Linked DNA regions of Homo sapiens: region 2 is linked to region 1. The links come from fine-mapping of genetic effects on gene expression. Tissue or cell type: whole blood. Region 1 holds a variant in brackets; the other region holds the start of a gene. All regions are shown on one strand. Distances are between the middles of the regions.

Evidence for each region. PIP is the estimated chance that this variant, and not a neighbour inherited with it, causes the effect.
Region 2: KLRD1 starts here. The variant in region 1 is fine-mapped to the expression of KLRD1 in whole blood (TOPMed, PIP above 0.99).

Annotation. Positions count from the first base shown.
Region 1 is chr12:10,249,460-10,257,646 of GRCh38, reverse strand. It overlaps a transcript of KLRD1 not described here. Among named protein-coding and RNA genes, the nearest start is that of GABARAPL1-AS1, 38 kb to the right of the region's middle. The variant AG/G (reference allele first, on the strand shown) is at 4,235.
Region 2 is chr12:10,304,224-10,312,410 of GRCh38, reverse strand. KLRD1 (killer cell lectin like receptor D1) reads right to left here and starts at 4,541. Exons shown (of 6, transcript NM_002262.5): 1 at 4,327-4,541; 2 at 2,931-3,023; 3 at 2,723-2,785; 4 at 796-947. The coding sequence starts at 4,333.

The sequences.
Region 1 (8,187 bases):
AAACAGAAAAATAACTAAAGAAAAGTGGGTGATACATAGAACAAAATGAGAATATCAACAAATAGAAAATATTAATATAAAAATCAAACAAATTCTAGAGACGAAAAATTAAATAACAGAACTGAAAAATATACTGTTACTACAAAAAAAAAAAAAAAAAAAAAGAATCAGCTACCTGGAAAGTAAACCATTTGAAATTACTGAGTCAGAAGACAAGAAATTTTTTAAAAGAACAGAGAAAAGTGAACAGAGACTAAGAGATTTAATGGACGTTATTTAACAGACCAATATACCCATTATAAGTGTCATAGAATAGGAAAAGAAAGAGTATTTAAAAAATAAAGAAATTTGCCAAATTTGATTTTAAAAAAAAATCATGAATCTTACAAATCCAAAAAGCTTAATGAAGTCCAAGTAGCATAAATGAAAAGAGACCCACAATAAGATATAATCAAACTGGCAAAAGCCAAAGCCAAGCAGCAAATCTTAAAAAAAAAAAAAAAAAAAGAAAAGAAAAGAAAAAACAAAACAAAACAAGAAAATATTTGTCACAAACAAGGGCTCCTTGATAAAATTACCAGTGGAGTGTCCAGCAGAAGCTTTGGAGGCCACAAGGCAGAGAGGTGGTATATCTAAAGTTATGAATTAAAAAAAACTGTCAATCAAAATTTTAATATCTGGCAAAACCATCCTTAAAAAATGAGGGTGAAATTAAAGCATTTCAAGATAAAAAAAATCTGAGGCAGTTTATTGCACTAAACCTGCCCTAAGAGAAAAGCTAGAGAGAGTTCTATAGAGTAAAATGGAAGGATGCAAGACAATAATTCATCATCATCATATGAAGATATAAAGATCTCTGGTAAAGATAAATGCATCAGCGAAATATAATGCCCAACATCATTAAGATTTTGGTGTGTAATTTCACTTTTTATTTTTTATAACATTTAGAAGCAATTGAATAAATTAATAATAAATCTATGTTAATAGTTACAAAATAAATACAGATGTAATTTATGATATTGATATCATAAAGCAGAGGGGTGGAGCTGTGTAGGAGTAGAGTTTTAGTTTGCCACTGAAGTTGTTAGTATTGATTAAAAATAGGTTGTTAAAAATTTTAAATATTATAAATAATCTTTAAGTTAACACAAATTATAGAATATACACAAAAGGAAAGGAGAAGATAATGAAAATGTGTCTCTACAAAAAAAAAAAAAAAAACAGCTAATCACAAAGAAAGTCAATAATGGAAAAAATGAGTGGGAAAATAACTATAAGACACCCTGAAATAAATAGGAAAATGGAAAATATAAGTCCTTCCCCATCAGTAATTGCATTAAATATAAATGAATTAAAATTCCCAATTAAAAGGCATGGATGGGCAGAATTGATAGCAAAAACAGGATCTAATAAGAAGGTGTCTATAAAAGACTCACTTCAGACCTGAAAACACATATAAGTTGAAAATGAAAGAATGGAAAAGATATTCCAAGCAAAGAGTAACCAAAAGAAATTGGGATGGCCATACTAATGTCAGATAAAGTAAATGTATATATATAAAAGACAAAGAATATCATATATTAATAAAAGTGTCAATTCCTCAAGAATAAATCACAATTATAAACATATAGGCACTAAATATCAGAACCTTTAAATATATGAAACAAACTTTGACATAACTGAAGAGACAAATAGATAGCTCTCCAATAATACTTGGAGAATGTAATGCCTATGTCCAATAATGCAAAAAACAACCAGAACAATAAGAAAGTAGAGGACTTGAGCAACACTATGGACCAACTGGACCTAAAAGACATATGGAATATTCCAACCAACAGCAGCAGAATATACATTTTTTTGAAGTGCACATGGAGAATTCTTCAGGACAGACTATATGTTAGACCACAAAACTGGTCTTAATTAATTTTAAAAGAGTAAACTCATAGAAAGCATTATTTCCTATCACAATGGAATGAAACTAGAATTCAGTAACAGAAGTAAAACTAAAAATTTGAAAATTAGTTAGAATGTAAACAACACTTTTAAATAACCAATGAGTCAAAGAAAAAATACAAGGGAAATTAGAAAATATCTTAAAGCTAATGAAAATAAAAACACAACATACCAAAACATACGGGATGCAACAAAAGTAGTGCTTAGAGGCAAATTTATATCTTTAAATACATTGGAAAGAACATCTTAAACCAACAACCTAACTTCATCCCTTAAGTAACTAGAAAAAGGAAAATAAATTAAACCCAACGCCAGCCAAATGAACAATAAATACTAGAAGGTATGTACATAAAATAGAGTGGAAAATAGAGAAAATAAACAAAGCCAAAAGTTGGACCTTAGAAAAGATTAACAATATTAGTAAACCTTTAGCTACAATGAATAATTTTTAAAAGTCCTCAAATTACTAGTAGATATAAGACACTGCAGTTTAGCTCTTTGAGGAATCTCCGTACTGCTTTCCACAAGGGTTGAACTAATTTACACCCCCACTAACAGTATATAAATATTCCCTTTTCTCTGCATCCTCACCAGCATCTATTATTTTTTGACTTTTTAATAATAGGCATTCTGACTGATGTGAGACAGTGTCTCATTGTGGTTTTGATTTGCATTTTTCTAATGATCAGCGATGTTGAGCTTTTTTCATGTGCTTGTAGGCCACAAGTATGTCTTCTTTTGAGAAGTGCCTGTTCATGTCCTTTGCCTACTTTTCTTTTTTTTTTTTAATTTATTTATTTTTGAGACTGATCTCGCTCTGTTGCCTAGGCTGGAGTGCGGTAGCGCAATCTCAGCTCACTGCAATCTCCGCCTCCTGGGTTCAAGTGATTCTCCTGCCTCAGCCTCCAGAGTAGCTGGGATTACAGGCAGGCGCCACCACGCTTGGCTAATTTTTCCTTGTATTTTTACATGAGACAGGGTTTCACCATGTTGACCAGGCTGGTCTCAAACTCCTAACCTCAGGTGATCCACCAGCCTCAGTCTCTCAAAGTGCTGGGATTACAGGTGTGAGCCACCACGCCCAGCCTTTTGCCTACTTTTTAATGGGGTTGTTTGTTTTTCTCTGGTAGATTTGTTTAAGTTCCTTCGAGATGCTGGATATACATTAGTCCTTTGTCAGGTGCATAGTTTGCAAATATTTTCTCCCAGTCTGTACATTGTCTGTTTACTCTGTTGATAGGTTTTTTTTTTTTTTTTTTTTTGAGACGGAGTGTGGCTCTGTCGCCCAGCCTGGAGTGCAGTGGCGCGATCTCGGCTCACTGCAAGCAAGCTCCGCCTCCCGGGTTCACGCCATTCACCTGCCTCAGCCTCCAGAGTAGCTGGGACTACAGGCGCCCTCCACCGCGCCCTGCTAATTTTTTGTATTTTTAGTAGAGACGGGGTTTCACCACGTTACCCAGAATGGTCTCGAGCTCCTGACCTCGTGATCCACCCGTCTCGGCCTCCCAAAGTGCTGGGATTACAGGCGTGAGCCACCATGCCCTGCCCTCTGTGGATAGTTTCTTTTGCTGTCCAGAAGCTCTTAAGTTTCATTAGATCCCACTTGTCAATTTTTGCTTTTGTTGCGATTGCTTTTGGTGTCTTTGTCACGAAATCTTTGCCCATTCCTGTCTGTGTCCAAGATGGTATTGCCTAGGTTGTTTTCCAGCGTTTTTATAGTTTTAGACAGAACTACCATTCAATTCAACAATCCCATTACTGGGTATATACCCAGAAGAATATAAATCCTTCTACCACGAAGACACATGCATGTGAATGATAACTGCAGCACTTGTCGCAATAGCAAAGACTTGAATTCAACCTAAGTGCCCATCAATCACAGATTGAATAAAGAAAATGTGGTACATATACACCATGGAATACTGTGCAGCCATGAAAAAAGAATGAAATCCTGCCTTTTACAGGAACATGGATGGAGCTGGGGGCTACTATCCTTAGCAAACTAATGAAGAAACAAAACTAAACACCTCATGATCTCATTTATAAGTGGGAGCTAAATGATAAGAACTTATGAACACAGAAAAGGAAATCACAGACACCATGGTCTACTCAAGGGGATAGGGTGAGAGAAGGGAGAGGAGCAGAAAAGGTATCTATTGGGTACTGGGTATAATGCCTGAGTGATGAAATAATCTGTACAACAAACCCCCATGACACATGTTTACCCATGTAACAAACCTTCACAGGTAGCCCCAAACCTAAAATAAAAGTTAGAAAAAAA[AG/G]ACACTGTGAAAGAAAAGATGCCCGAATCCGAAGACATTGCAATGAAAACTAAACAAAATGAAACACATTAAAGAGCATTTAAAAAGTGTATGAACGGAGTATCAGTGACCTGCGGGACAGCTGCAAGGGGCCCAACGTACGCCTAAAAGCAGTCTCTGGATACATAGGAGGGGGCAAAAAGTATTCAAAGAACTTACAGTTGAAAACTGAGATTTAAATACTGAAATTGAAATGTTTCCAAATTGCTAGAACTATAAGCATATAGATCTAGAAAGTCCACGAACCCCAAGCAAAAGAAACATAAGAAAATCTACTTACATGTACATTATAATTAAGTTCTTCAAAACTAGTGATAAAAAAATATTAAAAGCATTAGATAAGAAATGTTTTATGCAGAGGATTGTCAAACTTTGTTTATTAAAAGTTAAATTATTCATCTTTTTTTTTTTTTTTTTTACAACTGCCCACTGACTCACTCAGGACAGCAAAGCCAGTAATGCTATGTTCAATCAAGCATTCTAGGCCCAAGTCACAACTCACACCACTGCACTCCCAACCCTGGTTCATTCCCTTTTGTGTACACACAGCTGCGATAGTTTTACTCCCTACCACCCCCACCATTCTTCTTCAGTGTCATGTCTTGGTTCACTTGAATCACCTTCCTCTGAAAGTTATTCCTCTTTCTCAAAGATGAAGTCTTCATGTTCATATACATTCTCAAGACACATCCTCTCATGGAATCTACTGTCTTCCCTGTAATGGTCATTCATTTAGTGCCCTTGCTTGTTTAAGACAACTAATGATTCTATACAATCATGAATTCAAATCTTAAGTAACATGAGGGAAGAAGAACTAACTTCTTATAACTTGAGAATGTGGTGGGGTTTGTTTGTTTGTTTGTTTTTTGGAGACAAGTTCTCATTTTGTTGCTCAGGCTGGAGTACAGTAGCGCAATCACAGCTCACTGCAGCCTCAACCTCCAAGGCTTGAGTGATTCTTCCACCTCAGCTTCCCAAGCAGCTGGGACTACAGGTGCACATCGCCACGCCCAGCTAAGTTTTGTATTATTTATAGAAAATACGTAATACACCTGCACATCACCACACACAGCTAATTTTTGTATTATTTATAGAACATACATTTATAGAACATAAATATGTTGCTGAAGCTGGTCTCAAAATCCTGAGTTCAAGGGATTCACCTACATCAGCCTCCCAAAGTGCTGGGATTATAGGTGTAAACCACCATACCTGGCCTAGTGTCTTTTCAATGACAAAAACAAGAGTAAGATTATCCACTTCAATAAGCAAAAAGCAGTAATTTAATTTGATGTGATTTTTAAGAAAATCTTTGTTTCCTCTGAGGAACTGGTATGTTGTCTCTCCAGAATTCAGGAGAAATGTGTAATTGACCAGACCAGAGGTCCCCAAGCCCCAGGCCACAGACCGGTACTGTGGCCTGTTAGGAACCTGGAGCACAGCAGGAGGTGAACAGGGAATGAGTGAGCAAAGCTTCACCTATATTTACAACCACTCCCCATTGCTGGCATTACCACCAGAGCTCTGCTTCCTGTCAGGTCCGCAGAGGCATTTGATTCTCATAGGAGCACAAACCCTGTTGTGAACTGCACATGCGAGGGATCTAGGTTGTGTGCTTCTTATGAGAATCCAATACCTGATGATCTGTCACTGTCTCCCGTCACCCCCAGATGGGACTATCTAGTTGCACAAAAATAAGCTCAGGGCTCCCACTGATTCTACATTACGGTGAGTTGTAGAATTATTTCATTATATATTACAATGTAATAATAATAGAAATAAAGTGCACAATAAATGTAACGCACTTGAACCATCCCAAACCATCCCCCTCTTGCTCCCATCCATAGAAAAATTATCTTTCATGAAACCGGTCCCTGGGGCCAAAAAGTTTGGGGACCACTGGACCAGACCATTCCTTTTTGTGTTTGCCAAAGAAATAGCATAAAAGGGCTGGGCATGGTGGCTCATACCTGTAATCCCAGCACTTTAGGAGGCTAAGACCGGAGGATTACCTGAGGTCAGGAGTTTGAGACCAGCCTGGACAACATGGTGAAGCCCTATCTCTACTAAAAATACAAAAACTAGCCCGGCTTGGTGGTGCTTGCCTGTAATCGCAGCTACTCGGGAGGCCAAGGCAGGAGAATTGCTTGAACCTGGGAGGCGGAGGTTGCAGTAAGCCAGGATCGCACCACTGCACTCCAGCCTGGGCAACAGAGTGAGACCCCATCTCAAAAAGAAAATAGTATAATAACAAATAATCACTCACTGTCCCAAACTCCAGAGTGAAAGGTTAGTATGTTAACATCTGTAGTTAATGCTAGTGAGGCAACATATGTTAGCTCCAGTTTATGGAACTTCAGAAATCCCGATTACAAAATTATGACTACATTAAATAAGTCGTTGATAATGATGGTAAATGAACGAAACATGGCACTTGCGGCTGCTTTCAATTATCCTTTCCTTAACCAGAAAACATGCTCTTAAATACCTGAGACTTTCTCCTGGTCTGGATCTTCTCTAGCTTCACAGACCCAAGACCCTTTATATTACCTTAATACGCTATCCATTTTTAAAGTATTATGTGACTTTGAAACCACTTCGTACTGACTTGCCTCAACATATAATGGAAGTTAATAATCAAAGGGGTGTTGCAAATGTAAATTTTAAAATGTGTTTAAAAGGTAACTGATAAATTAATACCCAAGTTTTATCTAGGTCAAGCAGAAAACTTTGGGACAAATACAAAAATTAGCCTGGCATGGTGGCGGGAGCCTGTAGTCCCAGCTGCTCTGGAGGCTGAGGTAGGAGAATCAGTTGAACCCAGGAGGCAGAGGTTGCAGTGAGCGGGAGATTTTGCCACTGCACTCCAGCCTGGGCAACAGAGTGAGACCCCGTCTCAAAAAAAGAAAAGAAAAGAAAAGAAAAGTTTGGAACAATGTGACACAGAAGCAGATGTTCTTAACCTTCTCTTTGTCTAGCTACAGAACCCAAACCAAGGGGAAGGATCTTTAACAGGAATAATACATGTTACTGAAAGGGCTCTGGCGCCTTTGGGTATGCTAAAATGTTTGGGGCCAAATGACTCAGGGGAACTTTTTTCTTTGCTCATCCTTTCTTGGTTTCCAGCACTCATAACAGCCCCCCTAAAAAAAAAAAAAAAAAAAAAAAAAAGCAAAACGTTATCACCACCTTGGGAAATGGTAAGGACTTAAGAGAGAGAGTGGTTGAGGGGATGTAAATGTTTCCTTCTAGGTTGACAGCCTAACGCACCAGGATAGAAATAAAGGCAGAGACTCAGGACAGAAGTTGAATTCCTAGGAAATCTGAGCATGACGGACAACGTATGTACAACAAGTGATCCTAATGGTCTTCGAGAAAACAAAAGGACTACTATACTCCTCACTTTGTTAGAGTTGAAAACCATAAAGCTAGAGTGATGGCAGCTCCTGCGAACTCTGATGAAACCACAAAGGAAGTCATTGGGTCAAGAAATGCATTACGAGCCACCATGGGACACTACCACCCTTCTGCTTAGCAGAGCTCAGAGTAAGGGTCCCTTCCTGTGTGAAAGGCACTGACTGCTACAGCCTCCAGGAGTCCTTCTCACTGCATATGTGTGATAAATGTGAGATTCATTATTTTGTTCTTTGTAGAAAATTAAGTATGAAATAATTTCTTACTCTTTTTTCAAGTTGTTTCAAGGATGCTTCTCAATAAATTCTTTTTTAAAAAATTGACGATTTCCCCAAGAGTTTCTCCACTGGTTGCAAACCGTATATTTAATTTTCTTGGAAGCATTTTGATATATGATAAGGGCACAAGTTTGATACCAGAGAAGGCAAGATATTAGTTTGAGTTGTGTCACTTACTATATTTATAACTTTGGTCCAGTTGAATTCCCTAATCTACTTTT
Region 2 (8,187 bases), 55 kb before region 1:
CGAGACTCCATCTCAAACAAACAAACAAACAAACAAACAAAAAAGAATTGGGTAATTAGGGCCAGGCACGGTGGCTCATGCCTGTAATCCTAGCACTTTGGGAGGCCAAGGAGGGTAGATCACCCGAGGTCAGGAGTTCAAGACCAGCCTCGCCAATACGGTGAAACCCTGTCTCTACTAAAAATACAAAAAGTGCCAGGCCTGGTGGCAGGTGTCTGTAATCCCAGCTACTCAGGAGGCTGAGGCAGGAGAATCACTTGAACCCAGGAGGTGGAGGCTGCAGTGAGCTGAAATTGCACCAGTGCACTCCAGCCTGGGCAACAGAGTAAAACTCTGTCTCAAAAAAAAAAAAAAAAAAAGAAAAGAAAAGAATTGGGTACGTTTTCTTACCATATTTCCATACTAGCTTATATCCCAGAAAGATGACAAAAACTATAAAATTATAAAAGATATTATAAATTCAATTAAAAGAGTTAAGAATCACAGTCATTTAGTTGGTTCTTCAAATAAAATGGGTAAATATAATGACCTATTATCTTCTTTGAATTCTTCCTGAAAAGTTTCTTTCACTTTATTTGGCACCTATCTTGATTTGTATTCCCATGATATAATCATTAAGGAATTTAATAAAGATTTTACAATGACTACTTTAAGGTACACAGAACAGATAACTCAATTCCAATATAACCATCCACTTACTATGTGATTAATGACTTAAACCAAAGTATTTAACTTGTTTAGATAGTATATTTTTCTAGATCAAAGAAAATGTAGAAAATCAGACTCAGCACATGCCAGTTCATCTGTGTTTTGAAGCTGAAGCAGGCTGGATTTCTGAGAAGCACAGAGATGCCGACTTTCGTTCCAAGTTTTCTGTTCACTGGAAATGAAGTAACAGTTGCACCGGTACCCAACCCATTTTTCTTGGCAAGAACAGCAGTCAGAGTCTGACAGAAAACATAAAGCATGACTAATGACACTGGAGACTAGACATTTTTTTCAATGCTATTTAATTATTCAAAAATTATTTGCTGTGTATTCTTTTAACATTCAGAATCTACTGTATACACCACACTTCAGGGGCTACTAATGTGAACTAATTAGACATGAACATGATGCTTTTTCCTCATGGAGATTATATTCTAGAGATAGAATTACAATTATATAATTTTCAATAATTTATTAACGATATTTAGTGATGATTTAGATAAGTACAAAAAAATTAAGTATGTTAAAACAGCATGTAGCAGAGTGTAAGATGAGGGGCAGTTACAAGAACCTTTTTTTGAGGAAGTGACTCAAAACTAAGTACTGTAGCATAAATAGGAGTTAACTAGATGAAAAAGATTTAAAGGAGGAAAACATTTTAGCATACTTTCTGAGTCAGAAAAGAATATGGTACATTTGGAGAATTTTGATATATGTTTGGATATCTTATTTTTGAAAAGGGAATATAAATAAACCAATTATCTTGAGGCTTAATTATACAGTTTATCAATAATAGTGTCTTCAACGTTTGTTACCCACGGTAATAAAAACATGACACGTCATAGGCACTCAAATCTTTGCCATATAAGTAGTGCTGAAGATGTTGCACTATTATTTTTATATTTTTTAATTGTTTTTGAGACAGAGTCTTGCTGTGTTGCCCAGGCTGGAGTGCAGTGGCACCATCTCAGCTCCCTTCAACCTCCGCCTCCCAGGTTCAAGTGATTCTCATGCCTCAGCCTCCTGAGTAACTGATACTACAGGTGCGTGCCGCCATGCCTGGCTAATTTTTGTATTTTTAGTACAGACGGGGTTGGCCTGTCTTGAACTTCTGACCTCAAGTAATATGCCTACCTCAGCCTCCCAAAGAGCTGGGATTACAGACGTGAGCCACTGTGCCTGGCCAAGATGTTGCACTGTAAATAAACACTATATAATCAAGATGATGGTGAGACAACTTGGGGCGCATTCCGAAAAATACATATTTAGAAAATTGAGGCCGGGCGCAGTGGCTCTGCTGGGTACGGCATAATCCCAACACTTTGGAAGCCGAGGCAGGTGGATGACCTGAGGTCAGGAGTTCGAGACCAGCCTGGCCAACATGGCGAAACCCTGACTCTACTAATAACACAAAAATTAGCTGGGCATGGTGGCGGGCGCCTGTAGTCCCAGCTACTTGGGAGGCTGAGGCAGGAAGGTGGGAGAATCACTTGAACCAGGGAGGCTGATGTGGCAGTGAGCCAAGATCGTGCCACTGCACTCCAGCCTGGACGACAAGAGCAAAACTCCATCTCCAAAAACGAAAATTGGACTTTGAGCTGGCTTTCACTGGATAAGTAAGGTTTAGAAATCTGTGCAGTATATTCTGGAAAAGGAAAAGTAGTGAGATGCAAAAGTATAGGTTATAAGCAAATTCAGGCAGGTAATGAGGATTAACTGTAACATTTCCTGTGGTTTATTTTTTGTTACTTAATTATGAGCACTCATATAGGAAACATATCTTTCGTTTCAGGCTACTATTTTCCTGATTAGTTAAATGTACAAATGATACACATTCAGTGTAATTTAATCATTTTTACATTAGATTGAGCAATGTAAAATGAGACTATCCTACACTGGTAGGCAAATTTCTATTACTAAGTATAATATTCCATCATGCCTCTCTGTGTGAAAAACAAGAAACTGCCTATTTAATCTTTTACCAATGCTAAGTTTTCCAAAAAATGTGACCTACCTTTCTGGAGTTCTATGTTGGGTCCTGGAGTAAATGCTGGCTCAATACTCAGTTTAGTAAAAGCTATAAGAAATGATTAGAAATTTGTTTAATTAGGTATGGGTTTATGAAATACTAAAATATTACACATTAGCAAGATGAAGCCTTTATTATTAAATGATGTCTTCACAGTTTTGATTTTTATGGAGACTTGCTTAGAAAAACTTACAATTTTTCAACAAAATTCCCAACGTAGACATCAACGAAAGGCATATTATCCCTAAGGTCCCAGAAATTAACCTCCACAGAGTGGTCTTAAACACTGTAGAGAAAGACAGACAGAGTAATGACTTAAAGAGCAAACTCAGGAGCTGAGTTCTTAAAAGCAGAAACTAGTGACGGAGAATCCACAACATTCTTTCATTTGATAACGGAGTCATCTTGCCAATAAAACACTGAAGACTTTCCAATCGGGACTTCACCCAATACCAACATTTTTATGTGATGTATCTTATTCTTCAGGAAGATTATTCAAACATTTTCTTCTCTACCAGCTCTGTTGCAGTAAAGTGAATTTACCATTTATTTTAAATTGGCAGAGGTGCTTAAAGATCTGGAGGTAGAAGATATTAACAAGCACCACGTTGTGTTTTATGGACTTACATAACAGGCATTTATTTTTATTCTCTCAACAAAATCACAAGATAGATAGTATGGTTCTCATTACATAGATGAGAAAACATAAGGTCCAATAATAATGTTATTTTCTCAAGGTATCAAAGCAAGTAAGTATCCAAGTCAGAAATCACATGAAAGTGTGTCTAGCTCAAGAATCTTTCATTCAACGTAGTCTACCATTGTCACAATAATACTAGTTGAGAGTATGCCCTCTCCTCATCTCAGTGCAGGTTTTGCTCTGATAAATGTCTAGCTGCTCATTGGTTCGTAGAGATATTATAGGGAAAAGAAGACATAGGAACATTCTGGACTTGGTGTGATAACTGATAACAAATTGATGGGTAACAACTTTGAGGCCTGGCTTCATTTCACAGTATATTGAACATACATAAACAATCCTTTTTCCCCTAGAACATTCCATTTGTTCATACTCAAAATTACTTGCTTTTAGGCCTTTCACCTAAAACATTTCAACATTAGGAGATTCTGTGCTAACGTGAACACACTCTCAAAGAGTGATGTCATTAACAACAGTACAATGTGTCAAACTGTTCATTTGTGTAATTTTTGGATGTCACAACATAAATAGTCAATTAAAACCTTTTCAGCATTGTGTCATTAATATTTGGCATTTTCTATTGCTATACTAGAACACTGTTGCTCACAATTTAACCAGGCTAAAGTTCAGTTCTCACTCAGAATTTAAAGGTAGCCCTGTCAGAAACCACTCTTCAAACCTGTGGAAAAAACTTCATGAAATCATGTCTAAGTTATACAATGAAGAATCAGGAAAATATAATGAATGTGGAAAGTGCTAATGCATGAAAATCCTAAAAACATCCACTGTTAATCATGTCCTTTTCTCTTAAAGCATTACCCCAAAATCAGCCAATCCAAGAAATAGCTTTTCTGGTTATTTTTAATTTAGTGACTGAAATCACACATACCTGCCATGAGAAATTATGTTCCAAGAGCGAAGTAGAGAAGGCACGATGTGTACTTTTTCAGAAAGAACAGCGTTGAATTGTTGAAGCTGAGCTGGAGATTAAAGAATCTGAAAGTTGAGTATGAAGAAATTTAGCAAAAATAGAGAATGAAAAATTGTGTATTTAAATGATGTTCTTGAATCATCTATTGGTGAGACATGTATTATAGTGTGAATAAGAAGCAGTAGAATCACAAGCCTCTGAAGTGTTCCAGGAACCACAATACAGGAAATTCTCACAGTACTTTTGCAATATTAACACTTTGGCAAGGACTAAAGAAGGTGAGAGGAGGTCAGAGGGAGTTTTGTTGCTGTTTTGTTTTTTATTGTTTGAAAATCAAATTCATTTTAAAGGGTTATCTGGAAAATGAAGGAAATGATGGGCAAACCAAAGGTAAATTTACTTAGCATAACAAAATTACTTACAGAATTTTCCTCTTTTAATAATAAACATTTATTATTTACCTTGTACTTAACACAATTTAAAGCACTTGGCATATCTTAGCTCATTTATTTCTGTAAATGGCTTGATAGTAAAGATATATAAATATCTTCAATCTATCAAAGAGAAAACTGAGGCATACAGAGCTAAGTAATTTGCCCAAGGTCACATAAATTGGGATTTCCATGTCTCACTCTGTTCTTCTGATCTCTACCTAATTATCCTGGCCACGACAGGCAAAGTTCAAAAAAGTAGAACTGGATGGGTTTCCCACTTGGACGCCTCATTCACGTTAGCCTTAAAAGCTTTTTTCAACACCTCAATTTTCATTTTCTTAAAGTTCTTTAAGCACGACTTCAGCTTCTTTATTTTCCTTATTTTTACTAATACATTATTATATTGTTTAGTGTGTTATCTAATTCAGATACTATACTGATACTTCGATATACACTTTTTCATCTACAGAAGAGTAACCTTGTTAATAGGAATATCAAATGTGGAACAGGTCAAATTTCCAATGTGGAAGAGATTGGCTATAATAAGAATCTTGAAAGGAGAGATTTCGATCCATGATTTAGTATCTGGAAATACAATCTACCATGCACCCCCATACAAAAGCAGACACTCAAATAAACGTTTTGTGTATTATATTTTGTATATTGTTTATGTTCAAGCATTATAATATTACTATAGATAAACCCTTTTGTAAAAGATGGGCTTTCAACCAACAACAGAAAAAAATGAAAGAAAAGACTACTTTGACTTCTCAGTTTTTATGAAGTCAAAACTTTCCATCTTTTCAGTTTGCATTGTGTGCCTAGAGCTGCTTTCATTGCACCAACAAATTTGTTGAGCTATAAATCCTCACTGAAGAATATAAGCGTAAAATCTACTTCATCCAGACTGTATGCAAATCTTAGTTGAAGTGATTTATTTAAAAATCCTTTGCTTACTTGAAATCTATTCATTTTTAGTGTTAGAAAAAGCTGGTCTGGAAGAAACCTGTCTGATACTATTTTTCCCCCATGTAAAATTGCCTCAAAATATAGGAGATTAGGGGTTTGCTTTTAGTTTTTCTCTTGAGAGAGTACAAATTTATGACAGAATGTGCAATAGGGATTATTACTACACTTTCATTACTAACACAACCACCTTTATTTGGAAGTTAGAGGTTCTAAGTTTTTAGAACCCTGTTTGGTGAGAATACGTCCATCAGTCATTGTCCTTTTTTTCATCTTAGTTCACTGACTTAGAAATAAAAATCCAACAAATACAAGTTTACTTCAAGAACTCCAGGCTTAAATATTTAAGATACCTAAACACACACACACACACACACATACACACACACAGTAAACATATATGTATATACCTCTTTAACTCTTTCTGAGCTGCCAACTCTGATTGTTCTTTTTTTGTTTGTTTTTGTTTGTTTGTTTTTTGAGATGGAGTCTCTGTCACCCAGGCTGGAGTGCAGTGGCTCACTCGGCTCACTGCAAGCTCCGCCTCCCGTGTTCACGCCATTCTCCTGCCTCGGCCTACCGAGTAGCTGGGGCTACAGGCTCCCGCCACCACGCCCAGCTAATTTTTTGTATTTTTTTTTTTTAGTAGAGACGGGGTTTCACCGTGTTAGCCAGGATTGTCTCGATCTCCTGACCTCGTGATCCGCCCGCCTCGGCCTCCCAAAGTGCTGGGATTACAGGCGTGAGCCACCGTGCCCGGCCTCTGTTCTTTCTATTTATTTTTGTACGTAGACAGGTGAATGATTTCCATGTACTGTATCTCTCCCACTCATCTCCACTTGTTCCTGAAGTTATCATTGCCTCGCCTATGTCCCTTGGAATATTTGGGGAACTATGGCCAACTAGTTATCTGTATAGCTGTATCTATGGGTTCTTTTTTTCTCCAATAACTGCTGAAAGCCTTGCTGTTCTCAGACATGCTAATCCGGAAGTGCTGAATAATCATCACCAGAATGGGCGTCAACAAACGAATCTTGTGATTTGCTATACAGTCCAGCAGTCTCAGCCCTAAAGTCAGGTAATTCTGAACATTGTGTTTTGCCCAGTTCCCAGAATTACTCAATAGTGTTATGTTCCAGTCACCTCCTCTAGAAGCTAGATTAAGAAAATAACCTTTATTGCGTTCCACTTTCCCTTTCCTATTACATTTCCTTTCCTACATTTATTGCATACACAATTCCAAATAAAGTTTCTACTCAAAGTATTCTCTGAGTGTGCTGCCGAGAGAAACCAGACTAAATTCCGCTGAAATATCCAGCTTCACTTACATAAATTTGCTTTTGAAAAGTTAGGTATCCTGCCAAAAGAACGTCTCTCTTTGCAGGACTTTCCATCCCCTAGTATCCATTGCAGGAAGATGCCCTCTTCCTCCCCTGCAATTTACTAGTGCCCTTGGTAAGAGCAAGTGATGACTTCAATAGCTAAGTCAACTTTTAAACCTTAGTCAAAAGCCAGGGAAAAGAAACTAATGTTCACTTAACATATAAACAGTGAAGTCTTTTCCCTACCTAAAAATGTATAACTAAAATGTTGCAGAACAAAATAACAGTATACGTTCTAGTATCCCCAAGGGAAAAATTTATTTTGATCTCACTGCTTTTAGAAAATGCATTCTTTGAGCGGAAAGAAAATTGCTCACATCAGGCTGCAAATTATTCTTTTAACAGAGAGAGAGGGCTCCCTGAGAAAAAACAAAAGACGTTACTGACCTGGTAAAATCTCATTGTAAACATGCTAATAACAAACCTACTAGCTATAGTGGTTTCTTATATATAGTGTGTTTTGCTTGCAAAATCCTTATCAATGGAATGATTTTAGCAGGATGTATTAGATTGTCTAAAATTGTTAGTGGTAAAATCAAATAAAAAAATAAAACTAAGGCTGGGCATAGTGGCTCACGCCTGTAATCTCAGCTCTTTTGGAGGCCAAGGCAGGTGGATCACCTGAGGTCAGGAGTTCAAGGCCAGCCTGGCCAACATGGAGAAACCCTGTCTCTACTAAAAATACAAAATTAGTCGGGCATGGTGGCACTCACCTGTAACCCCTGCTACTTGGGAGGCTGAGGCATTAGAGTCTCTTGAACTTGATGAGCTGAGATCGCACCATTGCACTCCAGCCTGGGTGACAAGAGCAAAACACACTATATAAAAAAAAAGCATAAAACTAGAATCTGTGGGTTTATGGAGGCTGGCTTCCTGGAAAAATGTCACATAAGCTATGTGTAACCATAACCATGTAACCATCTGAGTATAAAATGGAGATGTGTCATAACCAAAACATCTCCTTTTGTGTAAACGGTGCAGCCACAAACACCATTAAGAGACCTCATATGTTTATCTGTTTGTCTGGGCCAGAGTGT